2 separate regions of the Homo sapiens genome follow, and region 1 is linked to region 2. The links come from fine-mapping of genetic effects on gene expression. A gene starts in region 2. The other region holds a variant in brackets. All regions are shown on one strand. Distances are between the middles of the regions.

Region 1 (5,372 bases), 26 kb before region 2:
CTCCTTCCATTTCCATTCAGGGCTCATGGCACGAGACCTAAAGTGGGTTGGAGTTTCTGTCCCATTGGTGGAGCCCCGAAGAGATTGTCCTTGAGTTCCCAACTGCCAGAGCTGCCATCGTTTCTGTTTCTTTCATGTCCTATTAAAGATTGAGTTAAATCCTATCTTTTTAGTAACTTTTCTTTCCTTCCCTTCCTTCCCTCTTTCCTTCCTTCCTTCTTTCCTTCCTTCCTTCTTTCCTTCCTTCCTTCCTTTCCTTCTTTCTTTCTTTTTTCTTTCTTTCTTTCTTTCTTTCTTTCCTTCTTTCTTTCCTTCTTTCTTTCTTTCTTTCTTTCTTTCTTTCTTTCTTTCTTTCTTTCTTTCTTTCTTTCATCAGCTAGAGTCAGTGTCTGTTGGTTTTTTAAAAAATCCTGACTGGTGGGTACCTTCCAGGTACTGGAAGGTGACAGAAATTAGCCTCCATGGGACACTGAACACTGACAGCACTGAATTCATAGACATTATTTAACATCTGTACCTGCTAACTCATGCACTCAGCTAAGAAAGGTACCGTGTTTTTTCATTAAAAGTTGAAATCAAGGTAAGGCTAACGGTCTACGGCCATACCACCCTGAACATGCCCGATCTCATCAAACTATGGCTAACGGTATAGGATTTACCTATCCTGTTCTTTCAGACTTGTAATTATTAAAATGACATTATTAGGCATTAAAATGACACGCATCATGGGGATGTGGGGAGGTGGGGAAGGTAGGCAACTCAAAGCAAACTTCATTTCAGGCAGTGCGCCCCTTCTCAATGAATGGCATGTGAAGCAAACAGCACATTTTAAAAGGTTTTTGAGATAAGATTTAGTACCTGTTTTGAGCTGAACGGTGCCCCCTACCTCCTTAAAAAAAAAAATCAGCGTATCTTTTTTTTTTTTTTAAGGAGGCAGGGGGCAGAGGTTGCAGTGAGTTGAGATCAGGCTACTGCACTTCTGCCTGGGAGACAAAGCAAGACTCTGTCTCAAATAAATAAACAAAACCAACAGACAAACATATACATACACACCAGATTGTATAAGAAAAGTCACCACCAGCCACAGACCACTTGTTATTACAGTGCCTCTTTCTAGATCTCTTGCCTCTGACTTCTTGTCTTCCTACCCAGCAGCACCTCGAAATCCACCAGGGCTGAAAGTAGCCTGAGCAGCGGAATCTCTGCCCCTAGACTTCCTCAGGAAACCCTTCACAGGCCCACATGGGGGTCAGACCACACTTTCTGACAACAACATCGCCTACCTTTTCTACATCTCTTTCCGCTGGCATTCAGATTCTGAATAACTGTGTATTTGTGCCATTCAATTCAGATTTTAGAAAAAAAAAAAAACAGTTCTACGAGTGACAATAATATCACTCAAGCCCTAATATTGATTCTAGTGATGAGAAAATAATGAAGCGACGGGGCTCCATTCCCATTTGCCTGCGGGGCCCCCTGAACTCCTAGGCGTTTGCCTCACTACTGTCTGTGGGCAAACTTCCTTTCCAGCCACAGCCAGAATTCGAAACTTCTCCCATCTGCGTGACGCATTATGTACGTTGGTAGAAGAGAAAAGTACACTGTTTTCCTAATAACCGTTGTTCCTCAAGAAAACACTTTTTTCCTATAAGGAAATTTTAGGGCTACATAAACCAGAAACCTATATATTTTCAGAAAACCCAAGGAGGCTTCAAAACCTTTCCAATTTAACAAATACTTCCAGAATCTGCTGTGTTACATGGCTCTGGTGTATGTCCTGACATAGAGTGATAAAAAGATTAATGAAACACTCTATCATCAAGGAAACTACAGTCTAGAAGAGGAATAAGACAAGCACATAAGAACTGTTCTATGAGACAAATATGTGTGCCCTGAGAGAGAGATAGCTGAAGCTGTATCCAGGAACAAGTATTTTCAGAAGGCTTATCTTCCATAACACTGTAAACCAACCAGCTAGCTCACTTACCAAGACTAACAGCTTCCCCATCAAGGCTAGCTTAGGGGATGTGAGGGTGATCTGCCTGTGACAACTCTCACCCCACTGATCGCCAGGGTTGATTCGACTGATCTGGCTGGCTAGATGGGTGACCCCTTCCTCCCTCACTGCTCCATGTGCGTCCCTCCCGAAACTCCACGCTCAGTCGAAGAGGACAACCATCCCCAATAGAGGAGGACCAGTCTTGGGTCAAGGGTGTATGAGTAGCTGCGCTCCCCTGCTGGAACCTCCAAACAAGCTCCCAAGATTAGCTTTGGGACTCTCACTGCATTGTGCCCACAAAGTCCTATGCCCAAAGTTCTTGTATCAGAAACTCTGCCCAGTGTTGAGACCTACTTCAAAATCACCCAGCCCAGGCCCCAAAACCTGACATTCCCCTTCTGAGGCACTACTAATTCTTTTTCAAGGTGGTGTCCTCCCTGACCACAGTAAGCATAACAAACTTGGCTTTGCTTGACCAACAGGTTATCTAGCTGTTCCTTTTGCAAGTCAAGAGTCAACACCCCTTTCTTCTAGTAAGCAGACCCCTATTATCTGAGATGACTTCATTCCACGTGGTTGAACTGGAGATTCTCCTCCATGCCCCTGGCCACAGTGGTTACCTCAGAAATGGACACATTACCTGGGCTGGTTCAAACAAGTCTTAATAAAGCGTTTGGTACTTAGGATGGGATGTTGCAAATATCTAAAGCTGAAATATGGAGCCAGCTAAAGCAAGGGAAGGGATGGGGTAGATAGAATCTTCTCATCCCTGACCTTATGTGGAAAGCAAACAACTAATTATGCTGCTGTCTCTTGGGCCTCAGACCACTCAAGTTGGCTCCTTTAGGAGAAGTGAAAGACTTGTACCAGGATCTGGAATTTGTTAGCTAC[G/C]TCTTAATGGCTTTGCTAAGATATTTTAGGAAAGGCATAAGCTTCCAGCCAAGCTGGCCCATTTGAAGGTATAAAGGAAACAGCTTTGGTAATAATAACAACAGCTCACATTCATTGTGTGTTATGTGCCAGATGCCATTCTGAACACATCACATGAATTTTCTCATACAATTTTTTGCAACAGTTTCACAGGGTGGATACTATTGTTATCCCTACTTTACAGATAAAGAAACTGAGGCCTGGGGAGACAAAGTAGCCTAACCAAAGCTACAGCTAGAAAGTAGCAGAATTGCCAGGCGCAGTGGCTCACGCCTGTAATCCCAGCACTTTGGGAGGCCAAGGCGGGTGGATCACGAGGTCAGGAGTTTCAGACTAGCCAGTTCGAGATCAGCCTGGCCAACATGGTGAAACCCCATCTCTACTAAAAATACAAAAATTAGATGGGCGTGGTGGCACACGCCTGTAATCCTAGCTACTTGGAAGGCTGAGGCAGGAGAATCACTTGAACCCAGGAGGCGGAGGTTGCAGTGAACTGAGATCGCACCACTGCACCCCAGCCTGGGCAACAGAGCAAGACTCCGTCTCGGGAAAAAAAAAGAAAGAAAAAAGAAAGACAGTAGCAGAATTAGGAAGCAAAGTCTTGCTCTAGAGTCCATGCCTTTCACCCTTTTGCCTACAGGCAGCAGACTGCAGAGGATCAAACATGTGCCTGGCAGAACTATAGGAGCCAGGTTCTCTGCCTTAGTTAAAGGGGCATGAACAGCCAGAAATATAGTAAGATCGGGCTCCCGGAGGAGGCAAACTAATAGAGTGGGGGCCCTGGCGCAGTGGTTCACATCTGTAAATCGCAGCACTTTGGGAGGCCGAGGTGGGAGAATCGTTTTCTGAGACCAACCTAAGCAACATAGCGGGACCGCATCTCTATAAAAATTTTTTTTAAAAAAATTTTTAATTAGCTGGGTGTGGTGGCACATGCCTGTGGTCCCAGCTACTCAGGAGGCTGAGGTGGGAAGATCACTTGAGCCCAGGTGGCCGAGGATGCAGTGAGCTGAGATCGTGCCACTGCACTCCAGCCTGGGTGACAGAGCAAGACCCTGTCTCCAAAAATAGAGAAGGAGGAGGAGGAAAAGGAGGAGAAGGAGAAAAAGAGGAAGAAGAAGAAGAGGAAATAGGGTGGGTATTTTATTCCCCAAACACCTCCTGCCACACAGAGGTAATCATTTCTACTAATGCTGCAGTCCCTGGGATGTAGTCTGGGAACGGCAGACCCCTATGGTTTCAGATTATCCCAAAGCTAAGAGAGAGATTGACGCCATCAAACTGAAGGTGGAGGCATGGGCAGGAAGCCTGTGGCTAAGAGACAGACATCATAAAGATGGGCTCTAAGTTAAAGAAACTGGGCTCCTCTAAATCTGGGCCTTTATCCTATGGAGTTGCCGGAGATCAGATTTACCAGCATCTGAGTTTTTATTTATTTATTTTTTTAATAGAGACAGGGTCTCATTGTATTGCCCAGGCTGTCCTTGAACTCCTGGGCTCAAGCAATCCTTCCACCTCAGCCTCCCAAAGTGCTGGGATTATAGGTGTGAGCCACCGTGCCCAGCCTCAAATGGGTTTTTAAAGTTTTATTGCCAAGGAAATGTTGATGGCCTACAAACAGGAGCCTAGGATCCCTGGCCTCAACAGAAGTGTTCAGGTGCCCCTCCACACACCTCCTGTAACCATGCCCACAGGAAGAGGCTGCCACTTCACCCCCAGGCAGGTCAGCCATGGAACGCGCTGCTGCAAAGCAGGACCAGAGGCTCCCAGACTGGCTCACTCGGAAACCCACTCCTCCACTAGCAAGAGAAAGGATACCCTTTAAACCAGTGACCACTGTATGTAGTTTTCCCTTCTCCTCTTTCTCAAGTGGCAATTTGTAACCTACAGTGCCTCAGTTTCCTCAACTGTAAAGCGGAGGATATTTGTATTTACCACATGGGATTCATGTGAGGATTAAATAATTTAAATAAAAAATGCTTAGAATAATTCCTGGGAAAAAAAAAAGTGCTCAGTTAGATTTGGGTGTCGCTCTGCTAGGTCAGCCATCCTCCTTCTCCTCCATCAGTGTGTCCTGAGTGTGTAGAAAATGGTTGTCCATTTATTTCATTTTTCTTGAGTTGGGGTCTTGCACTGTCTGCCCAGGCTGGAGTGCAGTGGTGCAATCAGATCTCACTGCAGCCCCAAACTCCTGGGCCCAAGCAATCCTCCTGCCTCAGCCTCCCAAGTAGCTGGGACTAGAGGCATGCACCACTGTATCGGCTAATTTCTTTTATTTCTATTTTTTGTAGAGACAGGATTTCACTGTTGCCCAGGCTGGTCTCAAATTCCTGGCCCCAAGCAATCCTCCCACCTCAGGCTCCCAAGTCACTTCACCCATTTCCTCCCAGTCCTGGCACAGCCCTGCATACGTAACTGATACATAGAACTTAGATAACAAAAA
Region 2 (5,372 bases):
AGCGGGTAGGAATAATCATCTTTTTGCTTCTTCATTCTTTTCCATTTTCCAGTTTTCTGTAACTATGTATTATCAGGGGAAAAAGCATACTTTTCAAAATGAATTTCATATTATAGGAGAAATAAAGCCAGTTATTTCCCCCAAATAATCCCTGGCCGAGGAGGACCCTCGAGTCAAATAAACAGATATATAAAGGATTCTCTGTTACTGTTAAGACTTTCTTTGCCCAGCTGTGAGCTCCCCAACTCCTTGCTCCACACTTCAGGACCAGGACCCTGTGAGGATTGAGATGGAAACACGTGGATGGGAAGAAAGGGTATTTTCATCCTTTCTTGAGTTACATTGATTCTTTTCCCTGCTTCTGAATGACGCTGAGGCCTCCTAGGCGCTACCATCTTTATTTCCTACCATCTCTTCCTGTATATGCTCTTTGCTCTTGTTTTGATATTCCTTCCCTGGTTCCTTTCCCTTCTCCCCTCTCATCCCACTCCTCAAGCTCCTCCTCTTCCTTTCTTCAAGTCACCCTTGTTGGAGGCAGGAGAGATTTGCAGGATGGGAGGGGGAGAAGGTTGCGTAAATGAAAATATTCCAATTCTGTAGTTGAACACTTCCAGGCTCAAGCTGTGGGTCATGACGATGGCTGTCCAGGGAAGGAAGCAAAAGAGAGGATAAAAAATAAGAAAAGCAACCCCTATTGCAAACGTTAATACATTTCCAGTGATTATCTCTTGATCATGATGGGTATCACAGTGTGGAAGACTCTGTTGTCACAGTCACTGACATCAGAAAAAAATCCCCCAAAGTCAGTGTTACAGGTTACTGTCCAGTGTATCATTATCATCAGGATCAAATCCTAAAAACTAAGACAAATTTTTTAAAAATTAAGGGGCAATTTTCTTTTAAAGTATTCTTGTAGGAAACCACAACATCTTTTTTCACAAGAACAGAGGCAAAGAAAGCAGTTTCACCTAAAGGCACAATACCTGCCAAAAAACCACTCCACTTCTTGACCTCACTGGGGACGTCCTCTTCGCAATTTCTTAGTTCATTGGGAATTTTGCCAGCGCCAAGGCCAACAACATTCCTGAAGATGTCATTTCCACCACAGCACACCCTCCCCTATTTACTGGCTCAGTAAACACTGGGGTAATGAACTAATGAACAAGTGAATGAATGAGAAGGCAGCAGCACTCTGCCGGGGTGCTTACCTCTTCTGGTTCATGGAGGCCACCTGGAGCCACTCGTTGGTGCTGGGGTTGTAGGAATGCGCAGCGGAGATCTCCTGGCTAGTGATCCTGTACCCGCCCACTATGAAGAGGTAGTTGTCCAGGATGGCAGACCCATAGCCCCTGACATTGACCAGGTCGGGAGGAAGGTTGTTGGCCAGCGGGAACCAACGCTCAGTCATCTCCTCGTACCTGAGCATGGACGGGGGCTCCCCCTGGTAGGGGTGAGGGGCCAGGGGTCCCCCCAGGAAGTCCCCGAGGGCCACGAGGACAGGAGTCCCAGTCATCCGGGCCTCCCTCAGCCTCTGCTTCAGGCTGACATCCCCTGGAGCTTGGGGAGGAGACCCCAGGAGGTGGAACTGGGGCTTGCACAGCACCTCGTGGAAGTGGACGACCATGAAGCGCAGGCAGGCCTCCTGCAGGTCGGGCAGCCCGTACACCTGCGCCAGGCGGTACATCTCCAGGCAGTTATTGAGCCGCACCTGGGACAGCAGCAGCTGCAGCAGGGACGTGACCTGCAGGAAGGAGGCCGCCTCCACCAGCTCGGACAGCAGGCTCACCTCATCCATCTCCTCGTCCTCGTCCACCCCGCCGCCCTTTTCCCCGCGCGGGCCCAGGAGCCAGCCTTCGCGGGCCCCGCCGGCGTTGATGAAGTCCAGCACCAGCCGCAGGCCCGGCGCGCTGAGGCCGCGCAGCTGCTGCACCTCCGGGCCGCCGGCCTCCTGGCTCAGGGCCTCGCGCATGCCGGAGCGGTAGAGGGCGCGGAAGTAGTCGCTCTGCTCGATGAGCTTCCTCTTGCTCACCGGGTAGCAGCGGTCCTCCAGGCGGATCTGCACCATCTCCTCGGCCGACATGGCTGGGGGCCCCGGGGCGGCAGCGCTCACCGCCAGATCTGCGCGCCGGCCTCCCAGCCCCTACGCGCGCGCCGGTTCCGGGCGGGGCGCCGAGGGATGGCGGCCCGGGAGGAGCGGCGAGGTGAGGGCCGCCCGCGCTCGCCCGGCCTCTCCGGCGGCCCCTCCTCCCGGGGCCCGCTCCCGCGAGGCGGCGGCCCTGCCCTTCTCCTTTCCCTCAGCGCCAAAAAAGGGCCGGCGGAGCGCGGCGGGCGTCCTCGCGCGGGCTCTCCCGGGCGGCGCCAGGCGGGAAGGGAATTCCAGCTCCCAGCCAGCAGCCTCCTCCCCCGCCGCCCTTCTCACTTCCGCCCGCGGGACCCCAGCCGCCGGCCTGACCTGCCGGCTGGATCCGGCTCTCGGGGAGGCCCGGGAAGCTGCGGGCCCGGGCGCCTCGGCTGCGGACGCGCAGCTGCGGGAGGCGGAGGGCGCGCGTCCCCGCAGCCTCTCCGCCCGCCCGGGGCGCGCCGGCTCCGCCGCTTGTTGGGGGCTGCAGTGATGCTCCGGGGTACCCCAGGGAGAAGAAATTCGTTTTCTCTCCCACGCTGCTTTACACGGGCTAAAGAAAAAGAAATGAGCGTGGGAGGAAAGGGAAGGATGGAGTCTCTGGTCCAGGGAGACAAAAAGGCATCAAATATGGGGTCGTCCTTCTGGCCCAGTCCGGCATCGAGTGTCAGTGGGCTGAGGCACGCAGGCGATCTATGGACAGTTGGTGGCAATGTTGGTGGCACGTAGAGCTGATTCTCTGGTAGCGTGGTCGCGTAGGAGCCATCTTACAGGAGGTCCAGGCAGATGGCAGCAGGTTCTCAGAGGAATCGGGTTGGGAGGCAGGGGAGCTTGCATTTGCCACTGGGGCCCCTTATTCTCCCTAAGTTATTAAAAGAAAGATGAAAGCGCAGCCCGACTAAATAAAGTTACATCACGTGGCTTCTGGTTTTAAACCATGTTTTCTATGAGCCATTGCTTTTCTACTTCAGTCCAGTCCATTACGGAATGTTATCCTGGCGCAAAAGATCTGACAAAATTGGCTCATAAATGTCTGCAAGAAGTAGCTTTTCTTGTCACCCCCTTTCTCCACCTACCCTGCCCCCATCATCTGAGGACTATTAAGAGAGACCACACGTGCGGTTTGGCTGAGCGCGGTGGCTCACGCCTGTAATCCCATGACTTTGGGAAGCCCAGGTGGGCAGATCACGAGGTCAGGAGTTCGAGAGCACCATGGCCAACATGGTGAAACCCCGTCTCTACTAAAAATACAAAAATTAGCCGGGCGTGGTGGCACGCGCCTGTGATCCCAGCTACTCGGGAGGCTGAGGCAGGAGAATTGCTGGAACCCGGGAGGCGGAGGTTGCAGTGAGCCGAGATCGCGCCACTGCACTCCAGCCTGGGCGACAGAGCGAGACGCCGTCTCGGAAAAGAGAGACCACTTGTTTCCTATGTTCTCTCACTGAACATTGCAATTAGAAGGCCCACCCCAAATAATAATAGGAAGGACTTTTTGTCTTGCTAATGAATTCATCCCAGGAAGGGGGTGGGGGGAGAAATATATTGTTTGGATTATCTTTGGGTAGGAGAAGGGAGAAGGATTGGGAGGAAGCAGAGGGTGTGTTCACTCTTATCTTACAAAACAAAAACAGAAAACCTTGAAAACTTACCCCAAACCAAGATTTGAGAACCACCTATGATAAACAGTCCTTAACTTGGAGAGAATATGTGTTTGGTTTTTTTTTTTATTATTACAAGCTTCAGCTTTCTTCTTGAATGACAGATTGTTAAATAATATCTTCTTCATAAGTACATTTCCCCTATTTAAAGAAGATACATCCTACCATGCTAACATTTTACCTTAGGAAGGAGAAAGGGTTAAAAACCAGAGAACTAAAAGAAAGTCAAAGGTGAAACATGAGATCCTTTCAACATAGTTTGGTTACATTTGTGGTTCTTACTACGAAATTTATCTGCTTCACAGAGAGGTGTTGTTGTCATCTTTTACTTTGTTTATTATTATTACTTGGGAAAGGAGGTTTATCTTTTTATTTTTTAGAAAAAAAAATGCATTTTTTTTTTTTTTTGAGACAGAGTTTCCCTCTTGTTGCCCAGGCTGGAGTGCAATGCTGCGATCTCAGCTTTCTGCAACCTCCACCTCCCGGGTTCAAGTGATTCTCCTGCCTCAGCCTCCGGAGTAGCTGGGATTCCAGGCATGAGCCACCACACCCGGCTAATTTTGTATTTTTAGTAGAGACGGGGTTTCACCATGTTGGTCAGGCTGGTCTGGAACTCCCGACCTCACGTGATCCACCCACCTCGGCCTCCCAAAGTGCTGGGATTACAGGCATGAGCCTCCATGCCCAGCAAAAAAAAATGCATTTTTTTTTTCCATAGAGATAGGGTCTTGCTACCTTGCCCAAGACAGACCTCAAACTCCTGGCCCCAAGGGATCCTGCCACCCCAAGTGATCCTGCTGCCTTGGTCTCTCAAAGCACTACTGTGCCTGGCCTATTTTCTTTATAATAATGCTAGGAATAAGGAACTAAAAAATAAAAGACATAGAAAATGTTCTAGTAGATTCTGGCCTCCCTGGAAAAAAATGAAGGAAATAAAAATGGATCTATGACTTACTCAGTTGTTTTCTTGGATTCTATAAAAAACATTCATCTCTTCACCTTGTTTCACCTGGCCTTTAAATCGTTACTGATAAAACTCCATTTTCACATCAACCCTTCACACTTCCATTCTCTATGAGGGTGCAGTGAGACACGATAAGCTTTGGAGCAGGAGGTGGAGTGAGTGATCAAGCATTTAGCAGCTTCTTTGGGATGGTAGAGTGTAACATCCAGTATTAAGCATCAGGCTGGGGAATTTTGCTGGGATGCGTCCCCTGTATCAAAGAGACTTGGACCTACGATTTTTCTATGCCTCAACCGGCAACAATGCCAGATTCAGTGGGTCAGCCACAAAGAACAGGCTCTCAGTCTCTCCTCTGTCTCTTGAATCTTTCACCAATGGATGCTTTTGTTTCCCAGCCGTCATAGATATGCCTCAGACTGGTATTTTCTTGCCTTTTTAAAACAGACCAAAAAAATCATGCTCAAAGAATGATGTGCATTAGAAAGGCAATTCAAGCACAGTAACATTATCAGGGTAAGATGAGGTTGGACAGGGAGTCTGGGGTATTAGTCTCACAATACTGGGCATTGATCTTGTGAGTTTTTTTGGCTCCCAATATGATAATAACATTATTTAGGATTGGGAGCATCTT

What was found.
Region 1: its variant is fine-mapped to the expression of KLHL42 in aorta (GTEx, PIP above 0.99).

The regions. Positions count from the first base shown.
Region 1 is chr12:27,803,042-27,808,413 of GRCh38, reverse strand. It overlaps the pseudogene RN7SKP15. Among named protein-coding and RNA genes, the nearest start is that of MANSC4, 25 kb to the right of the region's middle. RefSeq lists enhancers at 790-959, 3,330-3,499. The variant G/C (reference allele first, on the strand shown) is at 2,891.
Region 2 is chr12:27,777,039-27,782,410 of GRCh38, reverse strand. It overlaps KLHL42 (kelch like family member 42), which reads right to left and starts at 2,178. Exons shown (of 3, transcript NM_020782.2): 1 at 1,209-2,178. The coding sequence starts at 2,080. It overlaps MANSC4 (MANSC domain containing 4), which reads left to right and starts at 2,175. Exons shown (of 4, transcript NM_001146221.5): 1 at 2,175-2,201. RefSeq lists an enhancer at 1,662-2,161 and silencers at 2,027-2,336, 2,357-2,576, 5,009-5,209.